2 separate regions of the Homo sapiens genome follow, and region 1 is linked to region 2. A link means that fine-mapping ties the variant in region 2 to the expression of a gene that starts in the linked region. Tissue or cell type: thyroid. Region 2 holds a variant in brackets; the other region holds the start of a gene. All regions are shown on one strand. Distances are between the middles of the regions. Region 1 holds the start of HAAO (3-hydroxyanthranilate 3,4-dioxygenase). Region 2 overlaps MTA3 (metastasis associated 1 family member 3).

What was found.
Region 1: it holds the start of HAAO, and the variant in region 2 is fine-mapped to the expression of HAAO in thyroid (GTEx, PIP 0.98).

Annotation. Positions count from the first base shown.
Region 1 is chr2:42,791,507-42,794,410 of GRCh38, reverse strand. HAAO (3-hydroxyanthranilate 3,4-dioxygenase) reads left to right here and starts at 1,828. Exons shown (of 10, transcript NM_012205.3): 1 at 1,828-1,954. The coding sequence starts at 1,875. RefSeq lists silencers at 1,092-1,181, 1,262-1,361, 1,542-1,981.
Region 2 is chr2:42,756,247-42,759,150 of GRCh38, reverse strand. MTA3 (metastasis associated 1 family member 3) reads right to left here. Exons shown (of 17, transcript NM_001330442.2): 17 at 2,205-2,904. Among named protein-coding and RNA genes, the nearest start is that of OXER1, 6.4 kb to the left of the region's middle. RefSeq lists enhancers at 1,965-2,536, 2,537-2,904. The variant T/C (reference allele first, on the strand shown) is at 1,801.

The DNA of each region.
Region 1 (2,904 bases), 35 kb before region 2:
GAGTCCAGTGGTGCCTGAGCCAGGAGGCTTGCCAATTCAGTAGACCAGACGTGGTATTTGCTCTACACAGCACAAATCAGAGGGCATATTTGATAGTGATAACATAGCAGTCATTTAGCTTGTGTAGAGGGTTACTCGGGATATTTCAGACCCCCAAAATTCTACTTGTGGCCTTAATTATTCACATTATTTGATCACATCAGTTAAAATACAGAGTACCTATCATTCTTTCCTTTGCACTATGGTAACGGAACATCTGTTGGGCTGAAATCAATTTTTTCTCCTTTTTGTGTGAATTCATTGATGCCTTCATCCACCCACTCACCCATCCCTCCATTTAACTAACACTCAAAGCAAACTTAACACATCTCAGATCCTCAGTGCTTCATGTGTCATTGTTTACGTCTCCTCTGATTACTTGTAGATGAGAAAAATAAAGAAGGTGGTGTGAGTTACTTGGGTGCAAAACGATATTCTAGTTTTGCACTAGAAGTGCTCAGCTAAAACTGTGCTAGATAAATAACTAAAAAAAAGGAGAGAGAAAAATGAAAAAAAAAAAAAGAGCGTCAGAGAGGAAACGGGAGGGTCTCAGTGGGGAATTCGGCTTCCTGTCGTCTGGGTTTTGATTTTGAGTTGTACTAGAGGAGTCTTTATGTCTGGAATGCTGAGAAAACCAGCCCAGGCCAGGCGGGCTGTGAGGGCAGGATTTAGAGGCGTTTAGTTTCTTAAACTCTATAGTCTGGATTCCGGTGTCAGGGGCCTGAGCCATTTTCCTCCTCCCCTACCCGTCAGCTCCCACTCCCTCCAAACTTCCTAAGAAAGTTCTGAGTCCTGCAGAAAGACAGGCTTCTCCATCTTCCACACCCGCGCAGATTTCTCTTTCCTCACACATGCACGCCCAGGCCCAGCGCCCCAGCCCCTCACCCCCAGGATAACTGTTAGAGTCTCTCACACGGGGCTGTCATCATTAACACCCCGAGATTCCCGAGGGCTAGGACACTGAGGCCGGTGTCCACATCTGCCAAATTCCTCCCATAGCTGCGTGCGAACTGAGTATGTTCCTAAGACGCCTAAGGAGTTCAGCACGGGGCTCGGGGTCCACTGCGACACTGCGCGGACAGCGGCCGCTCGGCTGGGCCTCAGGTGGGGAGGGCTCGCGGTCCTGCCCTGAGCCCGGGCTCCGCAGCTCGGCGCCTGCACCGCTCCCCTCGCCGAGCCCGCGGCGGAGTCTGCCGGCCGCACGCAGCAGGTCTGGGGCTCACCTTGAATCGGGACCTGCGGGGACCGCCGTGCGGCTTCCCGCTGGGTGAGCGCCGCAGCCCTGAGTGGCGGGGCAGTCATTCCCCTTTTCCAGATGGGAAAGCCAAATCTTGAGCCCAGCGCCAGCACCGTGTTCTCAGGTGCTGGGACTTCCAACCCGCGATCTCCTCACTGTAGTATTTCTGGGAACCTTCCCTGGGATTCCCCTCGGGGCGTAGAGGGAAGGAACGTCTGGGGACAAGCGTCCAGGAAGGGTCTGGATTCTTTGTCCTCCGCCGGGAGCAGGCCCCACCGCAGGCGCCAGTGTGTGGGGCGCCCCGGAGACGGTGGCGGGGACCGAGCCCCTGCCCCGCGGAGAAGCAGAGGGCGCGGGACGCCGTTCCCCAGCGCTGCCGCCGCCGCGCTCGCCAGGGCCTGGAGTGGCGCGGAGGGCGGCGGGCTCAGACCAAAGTCCACCAGGGGGCAAAGTCCGCGGGCCCCAAGCCCCCACCACGGGGTCGCGGGGGTTTGCTCCGCCTCGTGAGCTTGGGATTCTGGTTAAAAAGGCGGCTGGGCGGAGCTGCGGGCCTCCGACGGCGGGAGGACAGCGCTGCGAGGAGGCGCCCGGGACAGTCATGGAGCGCCGCCTGGGAGTGAGGGCCTGGGTGAAGGAGAACCGGGGCTCCTTCCAGCCCCCGGTCTGCAACAAGCTCATGTGAGTCCAGCACCCCCATGGCCGCCCCCTGCCCTCGCCTCCTCCCCCTCCTCCATCTGCGCCCTCACCTTCCAGCTCCGAGTTCCTGGACCCAGAAGCTTGCAGAAGGACCGCTTTAATCTCTTGGTTCTTGGGGGAAGATGGAGACAGGCTGTTCCGGTTCCACCACATCGGTCTGTTCCTCTTTCTTGTGACTGTGGCCTTGACTTCTGAAGAAGGCTGAGCTGGTTCTCAGGCTGTAGGAGATGACATGACAGGGTGCACCTCTCCTTCCAGGGCTGAGAAACAATTCTCCAACCCCAAGTGACACTGTGCATTTTGGGAAAACTCAAAAGTGTGGGGAGGGTGGTTTTCAAGGCAGAAATGCACTAGAATGTAGGCCTGGGGGCAGCCAAATCATACACCCCAACCCTGTCCCAGAAGCCACAGGCAAAGGGGGAGGCAGAGAATCCGCTCCTTTGGGAAGATCTTGATGTCTTGCTTTTTTCAGGGCCCCTCTATGCAGGTGTGCACGAACACACACACACACACACCACACCAGACCCTCCCTAGGCCACCTCTGCCAGTAGCCTCTGCCTGCAGCACCCAACAGGGTTGGCCATCCAGCTGCCATCTTTCTCAGGCAGACCTCTCAGGCCCTCCCCTGTGGTATGGTCACCTCCCTCATCCCCCCAGTTCCATGGCGGGGCCCCACATGCCAGCTAGATCAAGGTTTACATTCCCCATTTTTGCTGTGTCCACAGGACATGGTCAGTAGGGTGGCACCTCAAGGCAAACAGCAGGCCCAGGACTATGCCAAGTGTTTTTACATCATCTCATCTCATTCTCACAGTAGCACCGTGAGGGGGGATTTTCATAAGTAACTTTTCTAGTGTCACGGAGCGCCTGTGCGATAGGCTCCAGACTCAACCCACGGAGCAGTTCGACTCCAGAGTCCACGCACACTCTTG
Region 2 (2,904 bases):
TATGAATGACATCTGCATGTTACTTAGCATTGCTTTGGGTAGAGAATAAAGGGATTAGTGTAACGAATGAAGAAAATTCATATGGCTACAACATCTTCAAATGCTCAAGAAAGCTCAAAGAGGATGACTTAAGAATAGCATTGGATTTAACAATTAGAAGGTCATTAAATGTGACTTTATTGACAGCAATTTCAGTGAGTGGATGGGGGTGGGGGCAGAATGGAAGCCATAAAGTGCTATAATGGGTTGAGGAATTAATGAGATTTGAAGTAATGGAGACAACTCTTCCCCTTTCAACAAATGTGCCAGTAAAAGGAGAGAAGATAATAGCTTTAGATGAAACTAAGCAGAGGACAGATGTTTTGGTGGTTTGACTGTTCTGTTATTTGGTGGATTAGATGAAGAGATTTTTAAATACAGGAGGAGAAGGGAGAAAAGAAAAATACTGGGGAGGAGGGGAATGATGATGGGGACTGGAATGTACCAGACCTTATTCTAAGCATTTTACACATATTAATTTTTTTAGTCCTGATGAGGGAGATTCCATTATTATCCCATTTTACAGATGGAAACACTGAGGCACACAGAGGTTGAATAATTTGCCCAAGGTCATCCAGCTAGTAAGTGGCAGTCTGGCCTGAGTCAAGACACTATTGCAAGGCCCTAAGGGAGTGGAAGGATGAATGCAGCTCATGGGTGGCAGGAGGGTCTGTCCCCAGAAGATAGAAGGATGCCTCTTTGAGCTGGAGCAATGGCACTATTTCAGTAGGTCTTGGGACAAGGGGAATAAAGCTGAAGGGATTCTTAGAAGCCGCAGCTCTCAGGGGATAAGGACTTAAAAAGTGGCAAAGGATTGGAACAGCTGGTTCTGGAAATAAGAAAATCAAGCTCCCAAAGAAGAACATAGAAAAGGGTCACTAAGCAAGTGGCTCAAAGGGGCCTGGTGAGTTAAGCACCCTGATGAGTTAAGCTGTGGGGTCGTGAGTAGGTGGTGTGGTTCCTCCAGCAATCTCTGCACCCAGGAGCAGAATCAGAATAAACAGAGGGTAAAACCTACCCAGGGAGGGGCAGAAGAAACCTCCTAGGAAGTCCGATGATAAAAACCCAGTCCTGGTATGGAGCTTAAGGTCGGCCCCCTTGAGAGGTATGGCATGCAACACTCTAAGCTACAGAGGAGCTTCCAGAAAGAGGGAGGTGATATTTGAGTTCGCATTAAAAGCCTTAATTTAAAACAAAAAACAAAAAAACAAACAATAAAAACACTAAGAAGGCTGGGTGCAGTGGCTCATGCCTGTAATCCCAGCACTTTGGGAGGCCAAGGAGGGCAAATCACCTGAGGTCAGGAGTTCGAGACCAGCCTGGCCAACATGGTGAAACCCCGTCTCCACTAAAAATACAAAAATTAGCCGGGCATGGTGGCGTGCGCCTATAGCCCCAGCTACTTGGGAGGCTGAGACACGAGAATCGCTTAAACCCAGAAGGTGGAGGTTGCAGTGAGTCGAGATCGCGCCATTGCACTCCAGTCTGGGTGACAGAGCAAGACCATGTCTGAGAAAAAGGAAAAGAAAAAAATAAGCTTAGTGACTCCTTTTAAGAAAATCTTTCAGAAAGCCCAGCAAACAAGAGTCACAAACATGTGTACTTCACAAACACAGGCTGGAGGGGTCCCAAGGGAGCCAAGCTTCACTTTCCCCTATAATGACCTTGGCACAGCAGCTGAGACAGAGTCCACACAAACAGCCAGCCAAACAGCAAACCCCATGTTGGGGCACAGCAGCCTTCCTCAGTGCACCACCTGAA[T/C]ACCCCAGCACCCATCCCCACAACCCAGCACTGGCCACAGCAGGGCACAAGTCACACTGCAGGGTAGTTCACGGGAAAAAGGCTGCCTATTACACCTCATACCTCCAGGCCTGGGGGCACAGGGTCAAAGGCCTCCTACTGGGGTGACCTCGCCTCGTGAAACTTCCATGTCCCCAGGATGTGGCTTATGAGACAGCAGAAGAAGATGCAGACCCTGGGGAAAGGCCTCTGAGAGTCTCAGTGCAGCTGGGGCACAGCAGACCAACTGGCCTGGCCTATTACCTCCCCGGGGCCCTCGGAGCTCAAGGTTCTGAAACAAGGACCACCTGAGGCTGGGCCTAGGGGTGCGTGCACAGTCTTACACCTGAGCCATCATCCTAGTAAAGAACAGCATAAAACCAGGCAAAATTTCCAGGAATTTATTGGAAACACAATACAAATTGGTTAGTAGATGGCATCTCCTTACAGACAGACAATCCACACTGTGGTATCATGCTCAGAACGAATTATCCTGCGGAAACACTCATGAGCACAGGTGCGTGCTCTGGGTTAGCTTCCCTGGCAGGGAAAATCAGAGACATAGTGCAGAGGAACAGGAGGGGTGGACAGAAAACTGGGACATGGCCTTCCTGGGGGGAATGGTGAGGAGGGGCTGCTAACTGAGTAAATTCCCCCAAAGGAAAACAGGGACAACAGTAAAGAATAAAGGCTTCCCCCTCCCTCCCCAAAGCCGTTTCCTCTCTAGGCAGAGTAAAACAGAATCTCCAAACACCCACGGGGCAGCTCCTCCACCTCCCCTCGCCAGGGACTTAGGACAGCAGTGGGGCATAAACACCAGGCTCAGACATGACACCGAGTGCACTGAGGCCACGCACAGCCCCACCTGCTTGCCCTCAGCCCCCTGCTCTGCTCTGAGTGGCAGGGGACTGACCCGGTGGGTCGCCTGTCCCAGGCTCCCAGGGCAGCTGCTTCCAACTGGGTTTCACTACTGTGAGGCACCTGCAGGACTCTGGAGGCCAAGAGGAGGGGAGAGGCTGGGGCCCCCTCTCTCTGCCTGGGGAAATGTTTCTGACAAGAATCATGGCTTCTCGAGGCTCCAGCCCC